Regions from separate parts of the Homo sapiens genome. Here all the other regions are linked to region 2. Evidence: fine-mapped expression QTL. A gene starts in region 2. Each other region holds a variant in brackets. All regions are shown on one strand. Distances are between the middles of the regions.

Region 1 (4,091 bases), 360 kb before region 2:
AAGAAGATACTTTGATGAATTGTGTTTGTTTCTTCTTGAGTTTAGTGGGATATTGGAGCATTTCAAGACTAGTTCTCAAGTTGTAAGGATCCATTTCCACAGGGATGATATACCAGGTTAAATAGTGTCACCTCAAAATTCTTATCTACCTGGACCCTGTGAATTTAACCTTATTTGGAGATAGAGTCTTTGCAGATGAATCAATTGTAGTGAGGTCATATTGGATTAGAGCGGCCCCCAGTCCAATATGACTTGTGTCCTTATAAGAAGAGAGAAATTGAGGCACACACACCAGGTGGGGATTTGAGAGGCAGCCACAGAAGATAGAAAAGAGGCCAGCAGCACGCTCTTCACTGAGCCTCCAGACACCCTGCTGATATTTCAATTTCAGATTTTTGGCCTCCAGACTATGGGAGAAAAAATTTTGGTGGTTTTAACTCACCCTGTTTCTGGTAATTAGTTTGCGCAGCCCTTGGAAACTATACAGGTGATAACTGGGTCTGATAGTGAATTGGTTCACTAATGGGGCAAGAAAATATTCATAAAAATGGAGGGGTACAATCAGACCCTGGTGTGCTGTGCCAACACTTGGTGGGTGGAAGCCCAAAAGAGGTAAGAAAACAAAAGCAGAGAAGTACCAGAAATAACTCAAACAAGCTCTACTTTTCAAAAAAAGAGAGCTTCATCAGTGTCATATATAATGGAAATAATGAGGAGAATGAGACCTAGAGAAAGGGAGCTGGCAGGATATAGATTATCAGACACTTTTGAGAAAACATTTTAAAAGAGCAGCATCTCTCAATCTTGAGTGTGCATAAGAATGACACACAGACCTTTTTAAAAATGCAAGTCCCAGAGCGACCTCTGTGGATAGTAATTCTATAGATCTAGTGTTTTGTCTGGGATTCTGCATTTTGACAGGCACTCCAGGTGATTCTGAGGCAGAAGCTTCTGGCACTTCAATTTGTGAAACGCTAATGCAATGGTGAAGTCAGGGTGAATCAGGGTTTGTGGAACCAGAAACTAATACTATTTAGGGACTTTAAGCAAAAGAATAGGAATAAAATGAATATTTATTGAGTGAGAAAAGGAATAACAAATTATACATTGAAAAGTACAATTGTCTTCCACTTTAAAGACATTTTGAAGTTTCTGCCAATTTTATTTCTTTTGGTTAACAGGTTTGGCTTCCACTGGGATACTTCTTTAGAATATATTTGATGTTTTATATGAATAATTCTGAAAATGTACAAAATTAATTTGAAATTAAGGCATGCGCAGGAGCTATTCAAATGTACTTAAAATTACAACCACATTATATTCAGCAACATAATTCTGAATAAATTACTCTTATGCCACCACTGGATTACTTCCTAATGCAATATGTGCAGGAGCTTTGTCACTGGAATACTTGTTTCTTCAGGCAATTTATCTGTGTTGGTGGCAATCTGTGGGCAGCATTGAGTACAACATCTAGTCTTTAATAAGGATAAAGTGCATCAGATATCCTGAGATACTATCCAATAATTTGGGATGCATAAAACATGTTAATTCAAGCAGACATATTAGTATTCATTGCACTGCTATAGATGTGTGCCCCACGAATGGGGATTCTGATTAATTTCATTCATTATGATCTCCATTAAAAGGAAGAAATACATAATGTTCCTTAAATTGTATGTGTCATGTTGATCAAGCATTTGTTGATAAAGGAGAAATTTATTTTGACTAAGCATCAATGAGAAGGGAATGTTCCATTTGTAACTTTCTACTGATTAGTTTCTGGCTCTGAACCTTCCAAATCTTGATTCTCCTCCATTTCAACACAATTCTGGTGTCAGTTGCTCTATTACAATACAACTTCTGACCCTGCAACTTCATGTCATGTCGCCAATTTTACTAAAACATATGTCTATGTGAACACATTGCCAGGGCCACTTCCAGGGCCTCAGCTAGTAGACTCCTTTATGGGAGGGCCCCTGAAGCTTAAGCTTCCTTAGCTTAATGGAAAATCTAATACTGAACAGCAGGAACAGAAACTGGCCTGCAGGGAGTAAAGGAGGGCCCAGTGGATAGGCAATGAAGTTCCTGCAGGGGCCTGAGGAGTTAATCCAGGAAGAAATGAGCTATGGAATGGTGGTTATGAAGAGTGGTAGGGTCCTAAGAAAAGGTTCTATTTGTGGAGTTGACCTGTTATGTTTGGGGACATGAATATACAGAGAAAGAGAGAGAGAATGAGAGAGAGGAGGAGAAGGAAGATAAACAGGTGGAGGAGAAAGAGGAGAAGAGAAGACAAAAAGGAAGAGAATTAGAATAGCAGTGTTAAAATGTTCAGTCACAGACCCTGGGCTTTTTGCTTTCTCTTCCCACTTTCTTGGAGTTGGTCTACATTCCTGAAGGCTTTGTCCTTGTATTGGGAGAGGGTATTCTCTATCCTCTTGGGCTTTCCCTACAGAACATCTTCTGCCAGCACTTGGATGTCAGTCTGCATCTGAGGCCACTGCC[A/G]ATGCTTTGTCCCACTTTGGCCTTTGGGCGTTGCACCCTTACCCTCTTCATTTTTCTGCTCTTAGCCATAAATCTGTCCCACATTTCTCTTGTAAAAACCTCTGAGACAGCAAGGAAAGGATTAGAGGATAGGCACAGGAGCATGCTGAGTTAAAAATGGGGTACATAATAAGCTTAAGCAGATTATCCTAATATAGATACTTTCCCGGGAAAGCAGAACATTAATGCTCTGCTCTCTAAAGCCTATTAAATAAACATACATATTATTTAATGACCCTGATTTTTGCCATTGTAAGTTTTAACACATAAATTCTTTATCAAAATTAATCATGAAAGACTGCATTGTAAATAGATTTTCTTTGGCTATTGAGGAGCTAGGTCTTTTAAGAGATTTTGGAACCTGTTGCCTAAAAATAACAACACAATTCAAAGTGCCCACATTTGGCTGTGTTCATATGCTGCCAAAAAAATTCGGAAGAAAAGTGAAAAGTTCACCCATTCATTTGGATATTTCCAAGTATCCAGATGTTTGGCATCATCCAGACTAAATGTTAGGTGACTAATTGATTGGGTTGCTCATGTTCCACATGTTTGGCATTGTATGGATAGATTCTGATTATGCTCTCAGACAGGGAAGTACAATGTGTTTTACATGCTCACATGGGACCCCAAAGCTAATGGTGTCAAATGAATTTTTCCTGTTTGACCCCCATGGGTCAAACTCAGTTCAGTTTCACTTGTATTTTTCATTCCTACAAAAATGCAGGTGCAGCTATTTTATTGCCATTAAATCTCATAAAGCACTGAAAGATTTGAATGAGAAAAACAATTCTGTTCCAGCAGAAAGCATTTCATCCTAAGGAATAAAATTTTCCTCTCTTTATTCCAGCAAATGAACAATAAAAAGTATATGAAATCATAGTATCACTGAGTCTTAGAATAAACATCAAAACTTGAATAATTTTTTTAAAAAGATGGAACTAAGAGATGGAATTTTATAAAAACAAACTTTCAGTTAGATGGTATCTAAACAAACTTTATTATTTTAACACATAAAGATTTAAAAGAGTTAAGAATATGGCTAGGTGATTTTAACTATATATAGTGACTCCTTGAGTTCTGTTTGCCTAGAGTTAATTTTTTGTCAAGTACTTCCTGGCTGGGCTGGGCTACTTATTTTTTATTGATTGTGTGTTCTAAGTGGAGCTATAATAGAAAACTAAGAAAATAGATCAATTTAGGGACCAGAGAGCTACCACAGAAGAGCTATTCGCATTAATTTAAGAGACTTGGGCCTGTGAGCATTTCCTTCAATACATCTAATGACTTAATTCAACAAATATTGTCTGAGCTGTTTTCATTTGAAGAGCCTATTTTCCTTAGTGCCTTGGGACATGTAGAGTTGAACAGGGTAAAAATCGTTCATTCCAGCTGATGGTAAGTTAGAGACTATTGGGCAGAAGCAAGCAATTTTATAAAAATACACTGTAGGGAAGAAATGGTACCTACCAAATAGACATTAATGATCAACTGTCAATACTTCAAGACATTGAGACCTGTAGGAGTTACTAACATATTCTTTAGAA
Region 2 (4,091 bases):
ATCCATTTTTGGTTTAGACAAGTTTGTCAAGCATCACATTTTTATCCCTATGGAAATCTTTCAAGTCAAACCCCAAGAGGTGGACAATACCTCTTTGTGTATATGACAAAGGGTGTAGTCTTAAATATAACTTTCGATTCTTATGAGGTTCTAAGCAAGAACTCAGTCACCCTGGAGAATGAAAGGCTCATGACTGCTGTTCAGGTATTAAAAGTCCTTTTGTTCCTCAGATAGCTGGGAAACTGTGTGAGATATGTAGAGAGTAAAGGCTAATGTGTGCTGCCACTAATTTCTCAAAAAGTCCACAGATCTTAGAGCTGGATGGCCTACAGAGAGTTTCTCATCTAACCTCTGATTTAATTCAGGAATCCTTAATATAGCATATTTGAGATTCATTGAAGGTGCCATGAATACTTTCCAAAGTGGTGCAACCCTAGTTGGACAGCTCCACTTGTTAAGATCTGCAGCTGTGAACAACCATGTGAATTTCCTCTAGTTGCTCCAATGTTTCATAATATCCTTGCTCACCTCCTGAGTTTATATATCTGTTTATGCCTTTTCAAGTTTAGTATTAATTCCTTGTTTAAAGCTCTCAATATTTCAGCTATGGCTCTCCTAAAATGATTTCACTTTAGTTAGGAGTTGAATAGTCATCAAAATGTGTCAAAACCTGGACTTTGGTATATATTATTATAAAGTCTGTATCTCATCACTGTAGTTTGAATTTTAGTGACACCTCTGGTACACCTCACTACCCTCTTAAAGAACTTGATGATGTCTGTCTCACCATAGAACGTGAATCTTTTCTCTCCCATTTTTAGGTGCACCAATGAAGAGTTAAACAGTATGCATTTGACCACACATACTACTCGTGATCCAACTGGGAATATATCCTAGGAAACTTGGCTGCCTGTCCAGTGTGCCACATGACCATCATTTCTGATGACTGTAAATTCACATAGTATTTCTTCTGCTGAAACATGTGGGAGACAATCACATTAGCAAGCTGGAAAAAATCAGTGTAAGTTAAGTAAGTTTCTAAACTGAAGAGCGTGTGTTTTCCAGGATTCCTATTGCTACTGACTGTAAGTGGTCCACATTTTGTTAATGAGATCATGACGCATTTTGGGGAGGGTCCTTTCATTATAGAGCACCAATGTTCACATTCTTCTTCTTGCTTTGCCTGACATAGACTTTGCCCCTGTGACATCCTCCTAACAAGGCACTTCTAATTGTTGGCAGCTGCTGCTGCTGTTAAAATTCTTCATGGCCTCTGTGTTATGCCCTCTAATACATTTCCTGAGAGGCTGAGCTATTCTCTGCTTAAAATTTCAACTATATGCTCTAAACCTGAAACAGATGTTATCTTGGCTGCTGTCATTTGCCATGAGCTTCTCTATTCACATTTTATACAAGGCAGGTAAAAAGCAAGTAATTTCTGACCTCACTCTGTAGAGAAAGAAAAAAGGGAGAGAAGGTAAAATAAGAGAGAGAAGAAGAAATATATAAAGCACAGGAATGCAGCCACATGGAAGCAGAGAACACAGCCACTTGAGCATCTATTATCCTAATATCATATGCTATAGTTTGGTTACTACCGATTTGCCTGGCATCCCTCTCGAATCATATTTGTGGCCACCCAGATTAACTATGTTAGCTGATCTCTTGATTTAATATCAGCTTGTTCTTTTTAGCTCCCATGTCATTTACTGTCTTAAAAAAATGTACTGCTTGTTACTCAACTGTCTGTTTTTTCATGAACCCACAGTCTTTTTTTTTTTTGTCTTTGTTTCTTCTTTTTTGTATGGGAACCAGGAACTAGAAAGCATAAAATGAGAGAAATTACTCACAGAAAAGGTGGAAGCCCAGAGAAAAAGGGGTTTGTCTTTTATGGCTTGTACTTTGTAAGCTGTGGGTGTGACTCAATTTCCTCACCACCCACATAAAAAGGTTGCCACCCAATCACTGTTTTTTTCTACCCCAAACCCCTCCCCTTTGATTTTGGCTAAGAGAGACCCTTAGAAAGACTGCCCTTTCTGGACGTTGCAAACTGTGACATATAAAAGCTGTTAGCTGCTCCTCTAGCCAGCAGCATTCAAACCTTGCAGAGCTTTGCTCTCAGAGAGTTTGTAAAAAGACACACTCCTCTTACAAGAGTTCATGCTACCACATAGCAAAGAACCTTAAATTTTTGGAAGAACAATATATTCATTTTGGCATTGTGCAGAGGTAAGCTATTTAGCTCAACAAGTTTATATTGCATGCATTGATTTTAAAGTAGCTCACATTTTTTTAAAGAAATGAGATTGGATTACTATGACTTTTTTGTATGTGTTCTATCACTTGGTGTGTCTATATGTCTGGCAGACATTATCAGCACATTCTCTGTTGTTACCTGTGATTCATTTTTTCTTCACTCTCCAGGTGAATTTCAATTGCTGAAAATTTCCCACTGAAAATATGCAGTAATATATTTTGTGGTTCAGACATTTGGGGCAAATGGTTCACATTCATTTTAGGGTTAGTGGTCATGCTGTTTATTTTTCTCTGCTATACAAAGTTCCTCTTAGGGGTCTGCCTCATGACACTAAAAAATGAATAGAGATTCTACTGTAGGTTATCTCCTAGGCTTGAGTTCAACATTTGTTTGGATTTTTGAAGAAAGTCAAATCAAGCAATGCTCCCAAATGATGTCTTTGTAAATTCATACCCTCTGGCCCTATTTTTTTTCATAGACCCTAACTCTACCTTTCTGCTTTAAAGCAAAGTAAACTCGGTGGCCTCTTCTTCTCCACCCCTCAAAATGATAGCAATCTCTGCCGTCAGCAGTGCACTCCTGTTCTCCCTTCTCTGTGAAGCAAGTACCGTCGTCCTACTCAATTCCACTGACTCATCCCCGCCAACCAATAATTTCACTGATATTGAAGCAGCTCTGAAAGCACAATTAGATTCAGCGGATATCCCCAAAGCCAGGCGGAAGCGCTACATTTCGCAGAATGACATGATCGCCATTCTTGATTATCATAATCAAGTTCGGGGCAAAGTGTTCCCACCGGCAGCAAATATGGAATATATGGTAAGAAGAATTCTTTTTTTTTTTTTTAAGTTCTGAGTGAGAAAGCTTTATATTGTACATCTGCAGAATCTCAAACGACCACGAGTGTTTATATGTCCGGGTATATGGACTTTTTACATATTTTAACCTAAGGTTCTTATGTGCCTAATAATGTTGAGTACTGTTGCATCACAGAATCAGAGAGACAGAGAGGTCCAGAGAGACAGAGACAGACAGATAGAGAGAATCTATGTAGACTTTCTTCTGTGAGTTCCATAGCTACTGGTGAATTGTATCTTATGTAAGAATCATAGATAAAAAGTGGGGTATGTTGACTGATCACATTTGGAAGGTCCACTTTAAAAAAAGTCACATGAACTTTTTCTGTGCTTTATCTCACAGTCATATTTATCAGCTATATCATTTCTTGAAAATACTTCTTAAAATTATAGGTTTCATATGCATGATTTATTCTCTGGGTAGGTGTCTTTTCCCTTTTTTGGACAAAGTTCTTACTGACGCTAACCTATTTGTATTCTAAGAGAACATGCTGACTTTTTTCTCCTTGTGATTTAATGCTTTGCTGTCCAGATAACAGTGAAGCCAGTGCATTTGCACACTGTTCCAACTTGCCGTGAACACATTTTTTGCTCTTTCTTAAAAATAGACAATGTTTAAATCATTTTACTTAGAAAGTAAAAAAAAAAGTTAGTATTGAAAGGAAAAAGTCTTGTTAAAATTTTTATTTGGTTTTGAATTTATGCAAGGTTATGATTTAAAGTCCAGCGTCTTACAAGAGCACAGCTTGGAGCCTGTTTAAGGCAATGAAGACCATCAATATGGTATTTCCAAATTGGGGTGAGGGGAGGGGGTACCACTAACAGTTTTATATGTGCTGAATTAAAATTTGGGATTTTTATCATATTCTAGATTCACTTGTTTTATGTAAATAAGTTATATTAAAAAGTTTGGCTAGTTGCAGATGCCAATGTCACAGGAAAACTAAAGACTTGCTAAATGATGTAACAGAGTCACA
Region 3 (4,091 bases), 220 kb before region 2:
ATAGGAATAAGGGGATTCATAAAGTCTTGAGAATTTTAATGCAGTCAGGTTGGCTAGGAACTCAGCCAATTTGTTTTCTTTCCTCAATTTCTTCTTAATTATTTGTATTTATATAAGCATCTTTACTGCAGAGGCCAAACCTCTTATTCTTAAATTCATAGTCCACTACCATTTGTCTGTAATCATTCAAGCTTTATCAAATTTATTATGTCTCAAAGCACTCCAACTGGAATTGCCATTCCTGGAACTTGTTCTTCTTGTTCTCATTTTGGTGTCTTTGTTCATGCTATTCTGTATAAGAGAGTGTGCCCATAACATAAGGGGTAGGCTGTGAGTGGCATACATTTTCCTGTCTCCTACAGAGACTGCTTGACTCCCTCATCTGTACGTGTTAAAATCACCCCACATTCCAAGGCCCAGTTCTTTAGGAAGTTTTCTTCAGTGTCTTCAATAGGAGTAAATCTCTCTCAGTTCCATTTGCCCAAGGATCTTCTGGTATAATATTGATCAAACTTTATATTGAATTATATTGATTAATGCTTTTTTGACAAATAGTTAATTCCTAATATGTGTACAAAACCTTTCTTGTTTTCTCCACTAAATCATAGCATATTTTAGGATAAGAGCTCAGTATTACTATTTTTTGTATCCCTTAGGCTACAGCAAAATATCAACACAGTAAACATTTAATTGATACTTGATTTGATGGTGAGCTGGCATTAGCTGACTGTACTTACTAATACCAGATTCTGACTGGCTTGTCTTACATTACTCAGGAGCATTATTAATCATATTTAAGTGAATAAATCTCATTATCTTCTCCCCTAGAATCATACTTCACTGTCCAAGTGAAAAGCAGATTATTCACAAGTCAATGCCTGTATTTTAGAACTTCTACTCTAGTAAATTTTAATTAGTTTTCACACTTGAAATTGTCAAAAGTGTTCAATCCAGAGAGACTCCATCCTGAATAGGGTCTGGGTAAAATGAGACTGACACCTACTGGGCTGCATTCCCAGGAGGTTAGACACTCTTAGTCACAGAATGAGGTAGGAGGTTAGCACAAGATACAGGTTACAAAGCTCCCGCTGATAAAACAGGATGTGGTAAAGAAGCTGGCCAAAACCTGCCAAAACCTTCCAAAACCAAGATGGTGATGAAAGTGACCTTTGATCATCCTCACTGCTTATTAGATGCTAATTATAATGCATTAGCATGCTAAAAGATACTCCTGCCAGCATCATGACAATTTGCAAATGCCGTGGCAAGGTATGGAAGTTACCCTATATGGTCTAAAAAGGGAAGGAACCATCAGTTCCAGAGATTGCCTGCCCCTTTCCCAGAAAACTCATGAATAATCCATCCCTTGTTTAGCATATGATCAAGAAATAACCATAAAAATAGACAACCAACAGCTACTCTGCCTATGGAGTGGCCATTCTTGTGTTTCTTTTCTTTCTTTCTTTTTTTTTTTGAGACAGTCTTGCTCCATTGCCCAGGCTGGAGTGCAGTGGCGCGATCTCGGCTCTCTGCAACCTCTGCCTCCTGGGTTCAAGCAATTCTCCTGCCTCAGCCTCCCAAGTAGCTAGGATTACAGGCACATGCCACCATGCCTGGCTAATTTTTGTATTTTTTTTTAAGCAGAGACGGAGTTTCACCATGTTGGCCAGGCTGGTCTCAAACTCCTGACTTTGTGATCCACCTGCCTCGGCCTCCCAAAGTGCTGGGATTATGGATGTGAGCTGCCATGCCCGGCCGTGTTTCTTTCTTTCTTTCTTTCTTTCTTTCTTTCTTTCTTTCTTTCTTTCTTTCTTTCTTTTTTCTATTCACAAAGAAAAAGCTCCAGTCCATTTTTAAATTTTTTTGAAAAATTCCTGACTTTACAGTACTAAACTGAAATGTATTAATATTCCATTCTTAACATTTCCATGACAGACAGAAAAATTCATGAGCCAAAACAAAACAAAACAAAACAAAACAC[C/CA]AAAAAAAAAAAAAAAAATCCCAGGTAGAAGCTTATAAAACTAAATATGGATCTCAGCACCAACAGCTGAACAGAGAAAGGAATTAAAACACTTTAAGTAAAAAATCACGAGTGGATGATAAAGTGTGTAGAAACTGAAAATTTACAAACTATTTAAAACCTGAAATCGCTGACTGTTCAGAAACTACACAGATGGATCATGGGTGGTGGTGAACAGCAGAAAGGGATTGTGGATAAATCTGCATTGTTCTAGCTGCTCCCCATGCCACCCGTCTCCGAGGAAAGCCTGACATTGATTAGATATTGAGCCAGGCTAATGCTGGCAGCAGATCCAGTGATGGTAACCTGCCTATCAGTAGATCCTTCCACTGGGTTCGCAATTTTGATCTGTGCCCCAGACATCTGACGGATCTCATTTATTTTGGCGCCTTGACGCCCGATTATGCAGCCAATCAAATCGTTTGGAATGGTAAGTTCATGAGAAGTAGTCTGAGCAGATGTATCCAAACCTGCACTGAATCCAGTGTTGCCATGCGTCATGGGAAAATGAGACTGTTGCATTGCCAACTGGTGCAGCATGGTCAAATCTGGCTGTGGAATGGCAAACTGTCCTTGAAGGGTATAGGCCTGACCGCCTGCAAAGATGACCGGAGAGCTGGAAGGCTTGAGCTGGTACGGGATGGTCACGCCCTTCGGGGGGGACTCCAACATGACCACACAGATCTGTTTGACACACTCAATGATGGATTGTGGGATGCCAGCAATAGTGATGGCCTGCTCAGTTGAGTTGGGTAGCATATCCCCTGCCATCTAGACCTGAGCCCCTGTACTCTCTCGTATTTCCTTGATCTTGCAACCACCTTTTCCAATGAGAGAGCCACACTGACTAGCAGGGACCACCAGCCTCAGGGTGACTGGGGGTCTAGTGGCAGCTGTGCTACTGGTCATAGAGCTGCTTATGTCCTCTTCCAGTTTGTCAATGATCATAGCAAAGCCTTTGAAGACGGCATTAGCAGGTCCAGCAAAAGTGATAATTCTCTCAGGACAATTCCCTTCTGAGATGTTGATAGGTGCACCACTCTCCTCGCGCATCTTCTTAACTGATTCTCCTTTCTTTCCGATGATACTGCCAACTTCCTTTCCATGCATAAGTAGTCGGATGGTGAGAGTGATATTTAATCCACCTTCAATCACACTGGTTTCCATGTCGAGCAGTGTTCTGGGGAGCTGGACTTTGAGTGGTCAAGTCTTTGGTCACTGATGGGGGGTGAAAGCCAAAAACTGCTGGCGCGAGGCGACTGAGGGGAAAAGGGGAATGGGCTGGAAGGGGAAGGGCGGGAGGCCGGGGGCGGAACAATAGGGGCAGGCGGGAAGGTGAGGGGGGGCCCCGCGGGCGGGCGGAGGAGGAAGGTGGGGTGGAGGAGGAGGAGGAGGAAGGGGGAAAGAGACCCCGGGGCGGGTGGGGGTGCCGTGGAGGGCGGGCGGGCGGGAGAGGGTGCAGACTGCGGCTGCTCAAGCTGCTCTGGGCCGGCCTTGTTTCTTTACTTTTTTTTTTTTTTTTTTTTTTTTTCTGAGACGGAGTCTTGCTCTTGTTGCCCAGGCTGGAGTGCAATGGCGCGATCTTGGCTCACTGCAACTTCCGTCTCCCAGATTCAAGCGACTCTCCTGCCTCAGCCTCCCTAGTAGCTGGGATTACAGGCATGTGCCACCATGCCTGGCTAATTTTTGTATTTTTAGTAGAGACGAGGTTTCACCACATTAGTCAGGCTAGTCTTGAACTCCTGACCTCAAGTGATCCTTCCATCTCAGCCTCCGAAAGTGCTGGGATTACAGGCGTGAGCCACCGCACCCGGCCGTTTCTTTACTTCTTTAATTAACTTGCTTTCACTTTACCCTGTGAGCTCATCCTGAATTTCTTGCATGAGATTCAATAACTGTCCCTTAGGGTCTGGATCAGAATGGCTTTCTGGTAACAAAATGACTGATTGTTTTTTGTCACTGTGTCTTAAGACCCATATTCTGCCCTTCATGATTATCAGTCACATGGGCCCTTGTTGCACCCTAACTTCATTTCTCTAGAAGACAGCTCTTCTTTTTGGGTTCCTTAGGA
Region 4 (4,091 bases), 190 kb before region 2:
GGAGATCCAGAGGAGCAAGTTTGGTCTCAGGGTGCCACCAGCAGGATGTGTGGCCACCAGAGCCTGCGTTTGTGATTGGGGCTTATTATCCTATAGTGGCCCCGCAGTTTCTTTCAGGGGAGAGCCTGCTTGGCCCGTGTCTCTCCCTGAGTGCTATACTTACCTCTCATCAGCTCATTTATTTTCCAAATCTTCTCTGAGGTGCTGTTATCTTACCTAGGGATTGAAAAAAAAACTTACTTAGGGAGAAAAAAGTTATATTAATTCTGGAAATAAAAGCATTTTAAACTTCAGGCTTAAAAATTATAATTTGCTGCATATTTGAAAGTAAAACACATACAACATCTAAATGTAAATATATTTGGTATGACTTTAATGTTATCCTTCACCAATATTCTGTATGTAATTCTGAATATTTAGGTTGCCAGTGCTAGCCTTTCCCCATTTCCCTGGGTGAGATAATTATCATGGGAACTGGAAGAAATATTATACATGGCTCTTTTCTCTGAAGACAAACTTCTTATCTTGGCATAATCAGCTCGTGTTGATCGGACCCCTACCTCACTGTTTTTATAATAGTCTCTGTTTTATGATATAGCCAATGACTCCCAGGCTGTCTCTGTTTTCTGGCTCTCATCTCACCACTCCTCACTAGTCTGGTTCAACCTTCAGGACTCAACTTTGATAATTCCTCTCCCATGACTATATGATATATCCTACTCTTTTATTTGTTTGTTTGTTTGTTTGTTTTGAGACAGGGTCTTGCTTTGTTGCCCAGACTGTAGTACAGTGGCTTGATCATGGCTCACTGCAGCCTCAACCTCCCAAGCTCAAGCAGTCCTCCCACCTCAGTTTTCTGAGTAGCTGGGACCACAGGCATGTGCCACCACCCCTGGCTAATGGTTTTCTTTTTTGTTTTTTTGTAGAGACAGGGTCTCTTCATATTACCCAGGATGGTCTTGAACTCCTGGGTTCCAGCGATCTTCCTACCTCAGCCTCCCAAAGTGCTGGGATTATATGTGTGAACCCTTTCCAGCACACATCCCACTCTTAATTCCTCATTAGGTGCTTCTAGTGTACGTTACTCTCCATTGTGACACCCCTGGTGGTAGTTCTTAGGCATTATGACTTGTCAGGCACAAGTAAGAAAAAGTCAGCACTCTGGTACCAGGTACTCACAAGCTACTTTTGTTGTTGCTGTTGTTCTGGCTTATTCCCATTCCCTAATCACAAGGCTCCTCCTCAGAATGCCATCTTACCTTGCTAAATGACGGCAGAGATTGATTTCTAGCATTGTCATGTCACTTGCATGAGTTGTACTTGTTATGCGTTTCCTAGGCTCAATGTACTACTAGTTCTGTTACATCTGTTTAGGTATTTGTTTGCATGTGTACTGTTCATTGGGGCTGCACTCAGCATTGATGCTGAGTACGCTAAAGATAGTAACTTAGTTCTAGGCTTATATTGTTGATTGTCCTGATAGATGTATTGGTATGCAATTGGCTGGTTATAAAGACATTCAGAGATGTAACTATGAGCCTTTGACTACTACAAGGATGAAGAACATAATGGAGATATAATGCTCTGTAAACTTAAGAATGGTTTGTACATTTCTAAGTTGGTTAATGCAGTCTTTCATTGGCTTATTCAACAATCACTGGGCACATTAGATGTACCGAGCCTCTTTTAAGAGGGAGAATGAAAGTTAAATTAATAGTTTCTTTCCTCAAATATCTGGGAGCCTAATGGAGGAGGAGGAGGACATTAAGTTATTTCAGTAA[G/A]GTGGAGAGGCTTGATTCTCATTTTACTATCTATTCTAACACTTGTAGAAAGCATGCTTGCTCTTCAGATTTAGGCTTCCTGAAATGTAGGGAGGGCATGCTATTGGAGAATTCAGGAACTAGCAATACTTAGAACAGGCATTCAGGAAAGAGATTTCAGTTTAGGTTGGAGAAAGGGATTGAAAAGACTTGCCAGTTCCCAGAATTAGAAAGACCAGATTACCAGTGTATTAGTAAGCTATTAATTGAGGCAGAGACAACAAGGCAGAGGTTTACATAGACAACCTATGCCCAAATAGTCGGGCCAAAGGCAGGAGAAACTTGTTGCTGACATCATGTAGTATTTGACAGATTATAACCCGTCACCTGTATCTTTACTTATAAGCTGTCATAATTTAGAACTCTTGCAAAATAATTTCTTAATACATTCTTAATACATTTTCACCTTAAATTTTTTTTTGAGTTTTACTATCGTTTTCAAGTAGCAGCAGCAATTATTGTAATATTTACTCAGTGCTTAATCTTGGGATGAGTCCCCTTGGGGACTTATATGGCTTAATATAGTCAAAATTACACTTTTGTTACCATGAGTGAGTAAAGACATTATCTTTAAGGAAGCAACATCATGTAATCTGTTAATACACTGCTCTTATTCAATTTATAAGACCACTGTATACAATCAGGAGACATCTACCACTACTTCATAGGTATCGCAAGACAGAAACGGACAACGAAATCTGAGGGGTCCATAGCTTTATGCTAGTCATGCTAGATTCACTGAGATTTTGGCAGGGCAATTGATTGATTGATTAATTGATCCACTCTTTCCTCAATTATTTATTGAATGTCAGATATGGACATTATGTCAGGAATATGGCTTATTTTTATTCAAAAGAAGGAAAATGTATATTCATTAGTCTAATTTTTATCTAATAATTCCATGAAGAACAAGGTAAGTTACAGTGAAAATGACTTATTAGGATTTTAGAGAAATTTGGGGGGTTGGGGGTGAATGGAAATGTGAGAAAAAGGGAGAACAGCATACCAAAAGGGTATTATGGTCTCATTTGACTGAATACTTATAACAGTTCCACAATTGTAGAATTATGAAATATTTATGGGTACCTATTATGTGCAAATCACTATATTAGGTACAGAAAGCACAAAAACAGATTTTTTTTTTTTTTTACCGTCAGGAAGGTTTACCTCTAGTGAATTGCATTAAACATACATAAATAAATATAACATGAGATGAAGTTTGTCAGGTGTCTAGGAGATATTTGAAAGAGTACATTTTCAGCTCTTTGGGTATTTGGAGGCCCAATGGAGATGTCATTTGCACTGGTCCTTAATTACTGGATAAGTTTGGGATCCACAGATATAGAAAGAAAGAGAATTACAAGTGAAAGGAGCTGTAAGCAAAACCATAAAGACAATAAATTAAAGGACATGCACAGAACACAATTTGTTCCACTTGGCTAGAGTCGAGGGAAATAAAGTTCGAAATTCAAACTGGGGTCATCTTTAATGCCAGGCTGAAGAATTTGACCTTTATTTAATAGGCAATGAAAAATGTTGCTTATCAATGTCAACACGTAATTCGTGGCTGGATTACGCAGCAGGATTTTATCAATCTATGTCATCATGACCTCTGAAATCCAACCTTTGGTCAGGAGCATATATTGATGTCTAAGAACTTTAGGATTAACTTCCCCAGGGAAATTTATAGCACAGCTTTAGATTTGATTCTTTAGAGAATTTTTATTTGAGGCAATATAAAAGTCTGATGTGTGTTGACTACAAGTTTTAAAATAAATGGTGGAATGCTTTTGGTTTGCCAATTTCTGAAAAGTAAAATAATGACATATTAAGTAATGGAAATGTGGGAATTAAAACTTTCACAGAAAGAGCAAACAAACTCATCATTTCTTTCCTTATCTCTGTTTCTGTGTCAGGCCCCCTTCCTGGCTCATGTCTTGTCCTCCAAGATGTCCTCAGTTGCCTCTATTTCAGTTCTTTTTTCTTTCCATGAGGGGTGAGACACCATTTTAGAACTTAGTAAGCCACGCTTGGCCTCAGTGTCCGAAAATAATTGGAGTAATTTCATTTTGTTTCTTCTAGAGGGGGATCCAGAAGGTTCAGAAGTTGACCTGTTCTTTACTTACCTTTCTGTAGACTTTACCTTGTTCCAAGTCCTGCTGGGATGATAGCCTTTAATGTATTTATCACTGTGTGGTGCTCCAATAATCCACCAATTCTGCAAATTTTTGTCCTTGAATTTAGGATGCTTTTACATTTTTTCTCGGAAAA
Region 5 (4,091 bases), 270 kb before region 2:
TTGTGAAGTTTTTGAAGAGTATTGCCACCCTTTCTAGTCCCTATTAGACTAGAAAGGGTGGCAATACCTCTTCCAAAAACTGAGACTTGTTGATATTAAGTGAGTTGCCTCAGCAGTCAATGGCACTTTAAAATGTGTTTTACCTATTTTGTAGGATTTTTCACATGTTGTTTTTAACAATGGGAAGGGGATAGCCACTAGAGATACCAATATACACTATTCTGAGCCAAAGAAGCCAAGTTAAAACATGCCTTCATGGCACTTGAATTCTTTATAAAGTAATTTTTGAAGTTGAATTGAGACTTCCTGTTTAGAAGCTTGATTATAAACTCTTGGCTAGTTCTCTGACTTGCACACTTGTGTTCTGCTATTCCCTGGTCCTGAGGCCAGCCTCAGTCCCCCAGGGTTTTCTATTTATAGACCTCTTTCCTCTTTACAATAAACCACTTATTACTTTGGGTCAACTTTCAACCAAACAAGTCTCATTCATATAGGGGTCCTAAGTGGCTTCATCCTCTTAAACAAAGGAAAACCAAGATGGAAACAAGACGGGGAGCATTACATTGACTTGTGAGCAGGTAGTGACCAATAACTAGTGGGTTTTCCCAAAAACACAAAACCAAGCAGATCAAGGTGAAAGGGGTGGGGAAGTGGTGCTGACAGTGGAGGAGAGGGTCTGAAATGATTTTCTTGCTTGTCTCCAAGCTCTCAAGATTTGCAGGTACAAGAGCTCATCCAGGGACCAAGTGCCATCTGTTCATTAGAGACCATGCACGCACCATGGGCCTTAGGAAGAAGAAAAGTCCACTGCAAAGGGATTCTAGAAAAACATAGGTATCGGGTCTTATATGCCATCTGGAAAATGCATAGTTTCCATGACTGTGGAAGTAAGAGGGTATCTCACAGGTCAAGACTGTCCAGGATGCTTCAGGGTTTGCTTGTAGTAAAAGTAATTTTTTTTTTTTTTGACGTGGACTCTTGCTCTGTCACCCAGGCTGGAGTGCAGTGGTGCAATCTTGGCTCACTGCAACCGCTGCCTCCCGGGTTTAAGCAATTCTCCTGCCTCAGACTCCCAAGTAGCTGGGACTACAGGTGTGCACCACCACGCCTGGCTAATATTTTGTATTTTTAATAGAGATGGGGTTCACCATGTTAGCCAGGATGGTCTCCATCTCCTGACCTCGTGATCTGCCCACCTTGGCCTCCCAAAGTGCTGGGATTACAGGCGTGAGCCATTGCACCTGGCCTAAAGTAATTTTTTTTAAAAGTTATTTGTTTTAAAACATTTTGTATTAATTACATTTATCGCCATGCTTCTGGAAAAAGGGTGAAAAAACACTTTGCACATTATCTGGGAAATTATATACAGTGTATTGCTGGAAGTAATGGGCTAAGGATCTATAATACAATATTTTTAGTAATTATGATAAAAGGAGAGAATATACACATTATAAGAAACAATACTTTTGGTATCATCTTTATGATAATGGTATTAGAATTTATTGTGAGTTCTGGGGATTCCTATATCTTTTATTTATTATAGTACTTTGAAGTTTTCTTCTAATTCT[C/G]TATACCAACTTCCAATTTAAATAAGAGAGAGACAACTAGACACTAGAACTAGGAGAGTTACAATCATTTAGTCAAAACTACAATTTTTATGAGAACTGAGGGTCAGGGAAGTTACATGATTTGCCCAACATCACACATCTTGTTAGAGGAAGACCTGGAACTAAAACTGAGGAAAAGATGCAGTGGATTCTTTTTCCTTTTTTGTGCATAAATTTCTTGAATCTTTTCAAATACGTTGCATGGAAACCACTCAGCAAGCAGGTAAGAAAGGGTGTTTGAAGTACAGGATTCTTTCAGAATGCTACAGCCACTCCAAGTCAGCAATGGCTGCCTCTGGCTGACCTTTAGGCAACTTTTACAATCCTGGCTGCCACCTCTTTGATTTTTTTGTGCAACTTAGTTGTCAGTTTAGCAGTTTATGAAGTACTAATATTAAATCACTCTTTTTTTTCCAGTAAAAGTAAAACAAAATATAAGGATTTAAGAATTCTATTTACCTATGTGTATCCCCATTATTCTGTAAACTTCATGAAGTCAGGAAGTGAACTATCTTGTTCACTGTCATATTCCTGGCACTTCTCACATATTAAGGGCTCAATAAATACTGATGTCTTTTGCAGATTTTTAACTACCTGACATGAAATTACCAGTAAATACTTGGGCATGCATTGAAAATATCTGACTATATGAAATGTTTCTCAGGTCTAGGGTAAATATACTTTTAAAAATCTCTCTAAAATGGCTAGCTAGTAAAAGCATTTTTATTTCTACATTTGTGTTTAAAATTTGAGAGTGACTTTTCTAGTAATGAGAAAAATGTTCACTTGTAGGCATGGTTTCATGTAGGACAGAGTTGTGTTTTTACAATTATTCAGTGACGACTCATTGATTTTGTTTTACAAGGTGGATTTTGCTTGCAACTTCATTTGATTTTAATAAAATTCCTATGAAATAGGTGAGATGGGTATTATCATCCCCTTTAGTTTATGTAATGGAAGGTTCAGTGACTAACTTAGACCATTTCCCACCAAAGAGGATTGAAAAAAATCCTGTCACTGGGGCTAAGGACACAGACCTTCTAACTCTAAATCCCATATACTTCCCCAAACTCCATGCTTTCTTTCCAGATAGAAACTATGGCCTTGGTAAATTACTCATTATACCTTGCTGCTTTTTAAGTGTATTAAAGATCACGGTCCTGCCCCTGTTCCACTGGAGGACTGTAGAGGTTACTCAATAGAGAAGGTCAAGTTGCTGGTAGCTTCATGGAACCTTCCCCCTTTGCTGTGAGGTCTCCTCCTTTAATACAAAATTTGGTGGCCTCTGTTATATGCCTCAGTATCAAATCTGCTTATGCAAAATTTCATATTCCTAAAAATCTCCAGATAGCAACAAGCTATATACATTGGTCTTGTAAAAAATTTATTGTAACCAAATGCTGGCAATAGAATTTGGACAGTTCTTCTGAATTTATGACAATACAATTTCAAATCAATTCAACAAATAATGTTGAGTACTGTCTATGATTAAGGTAGATCTTGTGTTTACAAACATAAGACACATTCCCTGTCTTTAGGAAATATGCAGTTTCATGGAAGAGACTAACCTGAACAATTAAACGTACAATGTAATACATGCTAAATAATCAGGATAACCAAGCTGCTATACTTGGTCAGATCAGGGGTTATTTTACAGGTGACACATTATCTGGGGTTTAAAGATGAATTGGATGGAGCGACCATCATTCCAGGTGAAGGAAATGGTGTAAGCAAAGGCATAGAGGCATAATGATGCAAGGCTTTTAGAGAAATGGTAGAAGCTATTGTAGTTAGGTTATACAATTTTTAGGAGGAAATGATGGGAAATGAACATGGGCAAGCATATTGGACTAAAGTTTGGAGTCCTTGCATATCAGATCCTATTTGTGCTTATGGTTCAAATATTCTGGGAAATCTGGTGGACAGATGTAGGTGGTAGGACTTAAGCACCTCAATGATTACAAGCTGAAGTTCAGGGCTGTGGACTATGTGTGATTCAGAGGCAGCCATGTCATATTAATAATGTAACTTTAGCAGGAGACCAATCTATGATACAAGGACCATAGAGACCCTTACCGGTTTATCTATAATAAATATGATTAGACAGGCCGGGCGCGGTGGCTCACGCCTGTAATCCCAGCACTTTGGGAGCCCGAGGCGGGCGGATCACGAGGACAGGAGATTGAGACCATCCTGGCTAACACGGTGAAACCCCGTCTTTACTAAAAAATACAAAAAATTAGCCGGGCATGGTGGCGGGCACCTGTAGTCCCAGCTACGTGGGAGGCTGAGGCAGAAGAATGGTGTGAACCCGGGAGGCGGAGCTTGCAGCGAGCCGAGATGGTGCCACTGCACTCCAGCCTGGGCGACAGAGCAAGACTCCGTCTCAAAAAAATAAAAATAAAAATAAAAATAAAAAAATAAATAAATAAATATGATTAGACAAATCACCTAATGCAGGGTTTATTGACTTGAATATGCATG
Region 6 (4,091 bases), 370 kb before region 2:
TGCTGAAGAGTTTTGTTATATGAATATGCCACAATTTGCTATCTGGTCTCCTGTTGACAGACATTTGGACATTAGTTTTGGTAGTTTTGAAAGAAAGCTGTGATGCATGTTCTTTTTTTGGACATGTATTTTCATTTCTCTTTGATATTTACAATGAAACTAACAATAATTTTGTAAAGTGTTTTACCAGTGTACACTCTCCCTAGTAGTGAATGAGTGTTCTAGTTGCTCCATGTCCTCACTAACATTTTATTGTTGTTCGTTTTACTGTTGTTAGCCAATCTAGTGGATGTAAAATGTTATCTAATTGTGGTTTTACTTGGCCTTTCCCTGATGACTTTCCTTGATTTTGAGAACCTTTTCATGTGCTTATTGGCCTTTTGAATGTCACATACAATGTGGTCTTTCATGTCCTGACTTATTTTAAGAATTACGTAGTCTGTTAGTTGATTGTAGGAGTTTTTTGGTCAGATATATGCATTACAAGTATTTTCTCTCAATGTGTGGGGCTTTTCATATATTTAATTATGGCTTTTGATTATTAGACATTTTAATTTTATGAAGTCCAAATTAGCAATTAAAAAGTGTTCAGTGCTAATTTGCTTACTGTGTTACTGTATTGTTTTCCTCTAGAAGTTTTATAGTTTTTATTTTTACATTTAGGCAACTTCAAGTAAGTTTTGTGTATGGTGTGAAGGAGGCTCCAAGGTTTAATTTTTTCTATGTATTTATCTGGGTCTTCCAGTATCTTTTATTAAAAAACCTTTCCTCCCCAGTGAATAATCTTAACATTTTTGTCAAAAATCTATTGACTATATATGTTTGAATCTGTTTCTGGGTTGTGTTCTATTTTATTGATCTATTTGCTTATATTTATGATCCTAATTCACCGTGTTGATTACTATAGCTGAAAAGTAACTCTAAAAATCAAAGTTGAATCAACTTTGTTATTCTTTTTCATGATTGTTTTGACATACAAGCTCTTCTGTGTTTAAATATAATTCTCATTGTCAGTTTATATTTGAAAACCTCTTTAGATTTTGATAGGAGTTACATTGAATTTATAGATCAATTTGGGAAGAACTATCTTAACAATACTGACTCTTCAAATTCATGAACATGGTATATATCTTCATTTATTTAGGTCTTAGATTTTTCTAAACAGTGTTTTGTAGTTTTTAGTTCAGAGAATTTGCATATCTTTGTTAAATTTATTCCCAAGTATTTTATGTTTTTTATGTTATTAAATTTTGTTATAAATGTAATTGCTCACAAATTTTATTTTTCAATATGGCACAGTATTGGTAAGTGTATCCTGCAACTTTACTAAGCTCATATATTAATTATAGTCACTGTTTTTGTATTTTTATGTGCAGAATCATGTCATCTGTGAATAAGGGCAGTTTTTGGCCTATTTTAATTAGTTTGACTTTTTTTGTTTTCTTTCCTTATTGCTTTGTTAAAATTTCAAGTAGAATGTTGTAAAATTTCTTTAAGTTTCTGGTTTGCCAAGAGTTTAATTTTAAATAATAAATGAGTGTTAAATGGTTTTGTCTGCATCTTTTAGGTGATCATATGGTTTTCTGCTTTATTCTGTGAGTAAATGAATGAAAACAATTTTAGAAATTTCTACTTTTCAGATGTAGAAATAAAAAATGATACATTCCCATTAAAATACTACTTTAGCTGGATCCAGAAAATGGATATGTTGTGTTTTATCATTATTCAGTTTGAAATATTTCCTTT[G/GT]GTTTTTTTTTCATGGTTTATTTATATGTGTCTTGTTCAATTTCCACATATTCGGTTTAAATATATATTTTATTATTGACTTCCCATTTAATTCCACTGTTGTTAGATAACGTGTTCTGTAAGATTTTAATCTTTGGGCATTTATTAAGATGTATTACATTTATTACCTAAGATATAGTCCATCTTTGTGAGCATCTGATAAGCACTCAAAAATAATGTGTATATTTTGGAGATGTAGTTTTAATGTTCTATAAATGTTAGATAAAGATCATTTATAGTATTGTTGAAGTGGTTTATATATCTACTGATTTTTTTTCTAGGTGATCTATCAATTACTGAAGGAGATGTATTAAAATATTCAATTCTGAATGTGATCTTTTTTGTCCCTTGAGGTCTGTTAATTTTTGTTTTATGGATTTGAATGACTGTATATTAGATGTATTAAATGCATATTAGACACATACACATTTCTCTGGTAGTATTTTGAAGTCTACTTTTTTATATTGATGTAACCACTTCAGTTTCCTTGGCTTAGCATTTGCCTGGAATATTCTTTCCATCTTTTTATGTTTTACTTATGTGATTTTATCTGTAAAGTATATATCTTGTAGTTGTACTTTTTAGATATTTGATTTGGCAATCTCTTTTAATTGCAGCTTTTAGTTTATTTACATTAATATAATTACTGATATGTTTGGATTTATGTCCACCGTTTCCTATTGTTTATTTGAATAATGTATTTTTTTTCCTTTTTATGTTCTCTTTTTCTTTGGGGATAATCAAATTATTTTAGCATTCTATTTAATTATTAAATTTATTTTAATTATAACTATTTAAAAATATCTATCTATCAAATTTGCATTACTTTTTTACTGTTTTCTTTAGAGATTACCAATGCCTCTTTGCTGATTGGAGTTAATATTTTACTGACTTCATTTAAAATGTAAGACATTTTTAATGATATAGCTCTATCTACATCCATCCTTTTTGTCATACATTTTATATCTACATCTGTTACACACAAATCTTAAATGTTGTAAGTTTATGCAAATCAACAAATTTTGCTTTAAGGAAATTAAGAGGCTGGGCATGGTAGCTCATGCCTGTAATCCTAGCACTTTAGGGGGCTGAGGCGGGTGGATCACTTGAGGCCAGGAGTTTGAGACCAACCTAGCCAACATGGTGAAACCCTGTCTCTACTAAACATACAAAAATTAGCCGGGCATGGTGATGCATGCCTGTAATCCCAGCTACTCAGGAGGCTGAGGCAGGAGAATCGCTTGAACCCAGGTGGTGGAGGTGGCAGTGAGCCAAGATCGTGCCCTTGCACTCTAGCCTAGGCGACAGAGTGAGACCCTGTCTCAGAAAAAAAAAAAAAAAAGGAAATGAAAGGAGTTAAGAGAAGAACAAAGGTTATTTTATTTAAGTACATTTTTACCATTAAAAAAATTTTTTTATAGACCTGAGTTTCCATTTGGTTTCATATCCTTTTAACTTAAATAACTTTCTTTGTGTTTGTAAAAAATTTAGATGTATTGGCATGAAGCCTTCTGTTTTTTGTTTATCTTAACATATCCTTAGTTCACATTCTTTTTTGATGGATGCTTTCACTGGTATAGAATTCTATGTTGACAGCCTTTTCTTTCAGTAATGGAAAAAGATAGATTTTTTTTTTTCTTCTGGCCTCCATTGTTCTGGATAATACAGCAGTCATTCCTACTGATGTAACCATAAGTGCATGTGTCTTTTTTCTTCTGACTTTTTAAAAGATTACCTTTGTGCTTTTGTTTTATAGCAGTTGACATAAATGTGCCTTGGTATGCTGCTCTTTATTTTCTTAATTTAATTTAATTTAATTTAATTTAATTTAATTTAATTTTTGAGACGGAGTCTTGCTCTGTCGCCCAGGCTGGAGTGCAGTGGCGCGATCTCGGCTCACTGCAAGCTCTGCCTCCCGGGTTCACGCCATTCTCCTGCCACAGCCTCCCAAGTAGCTGGGACTACAGGCGCCCGCCACCACACCCGGCTAATTTTTTGTATTTTTTAGTACAGATGGGGTTTCACTGTGTTAGCCAGGGTGGTCTTGATCTCCTGACCTTGTGATCTGCCCACCTCGGCCTCCCAAAGTGCTGGGATTACAGGCATGAGCCACTTCGCCCAGCTGCTGTTCTTTATTTTTATACTGCTTGAAAGTCTATGAACTTTGTTCTTTAAGCCAATATTTTGCGCTACATTTGTGACTATTTTGGCCATTATTTCCTCAAGTATTGTTTTTTTGGTCCATGTTTCTCTTTCTTCAATGCATGGATTTCTAATTACACATAAATTGGGCCATTTGATATTTT

Direction of the effects. Alleles are on the strand shown, and positions count from the first base shown. SD is a standard deviation of normalised expression in the study named. Not every link is listed here.
As copies of G replace A in region 1, the expression in nucleus accumbens of the gene that starts at base 2,088 in region 2 goes down (moderate effect, 0.43 SD a copy in GTEx).
For the expression in subcutaneous fat of the gene that starts at base 2,088 in region 2, allele G in region 4 goes with a lower level than allele A (large effect, 0.80 SD a copy in GTEx).
For the expression in thyroid of the gene that starts at base 2,088 in region 2, allele C in region 5 goes with a lower level than allele G (moderate effect, 0.66 SD a copy in GTEx).
For the expression in prefrontal cortex of the gene that starts at base 2,088 in region 2, GT is the low allele of the variant in region 6 and G is the other (moderate effect, 0.42 SD a copy in CommonMind).

What was found. PIP is the estimated chance that this variant, and not a neighbour inherited with it, causes the effect. A credible set is the group of variants that fine-mapping cannot tell apart.
Region 1: its variant is the best candidate, but not a certain one, in a credible set for the expression of PI15 in nucleus accumbens (GTEx, PIP 0.69).
Region 3: its variant is the best candidate, but not a certain one, in a credible set for the expression of PI15 in iPS cells (PhLiPS, PIP 0.64).
Region 4: its variant is the best candidate, but not a certain one, in a credible set for the expression of PI15 in subcutaneous fat (GTEx, PIP 0.72).
Region 5: its variant is the best candidate, but not a certain one, in a credible set for the expression of PI15 in thyroid (GTEx, PIP 0.58).
Region 6: its variant is the best candidate, but not a certain one, in a credible set for the expression of PI15 in prefrontal cortex (CommonMind, PIP 0.58).

Annotation. Positions count from the first base shown.
Region 1 is chr8:74,458,569-74,462,659 of GRCh38, forward strand. It overlaps a transcript of GDAP1 not described here. Among named protein-coding and RNA genes, the nearest start is that of MIR5681A, 88 kb to the right of the region's middle. The variant A/G (reference allele first, on the strand shown) is at 2,506.
Region 2 is chr8:74,822,447-74,826,537 of GRCh38, forward strand. It overlaps PI15 (peptidase inhibitor 15), which reads left to right and starts at 2,088. Exons shown (of 6, transcript NM_015886.5): 1 at 2,088-2,229; 2 at 2,764-3,076. The coding sequence starts at 2,804.
Region 3 is chr8:74,601,058-74,605,148 of GRCh38, forward strand. The region is part of intron 1 of MIR2052HG (MIR2052 host gene); the gene reads left to right. It also overlaps the pseudogene PCBP2P2. Among named protein-coding and RNA genes, the nearest start is that of MIR2052HG, 3.3 kb to the left of the region's middle. RefSeq lists an enhancer at 427-1,626. The variant C/CA (reference allele first, on the strand shown) is at 1,982.
Region 4 is chr8:74,632,287-74,636,377 of GRCh38, forward strand. All of the region lies in intron 2 of MIR2052HG (MIR2052 host gene), which reads left to right. LINC03071 (long intergenic non-protein coding RNA 3071) reads right to left here and starts at 1,046. Exons shown (of 7, transcript NR_183468.1): 1 at 949-1,046; 2 at 164-216. The variant G/A (reference allele first, on the strand shown) is at 1,782.
Region 5 is chr8:74,548,537-74,552,627 of GRCh38, forward strand. It overlaps MIR5681A (microRNA 5681a), which reads left to right and starts at 7; the gene lies at 7-81. MIR5681B (microRNA 5681b) reads right to left here and starts at 73; the gene lies at 14-73. The variant C/G (reference allele first, on the strand shown) is at 1,569.
Region 6 is chr8:74,448,341-74,452,431 of GRCh38, forward strand. It overlaps a transcript of GDAP1 not described here. Among named protein-coding and RNA genes, the nearest start is that of MIR5681A, 98 kb to the right of the region's middle. The variant G/GT (reference allele first, on the strand shown) is at 1,747.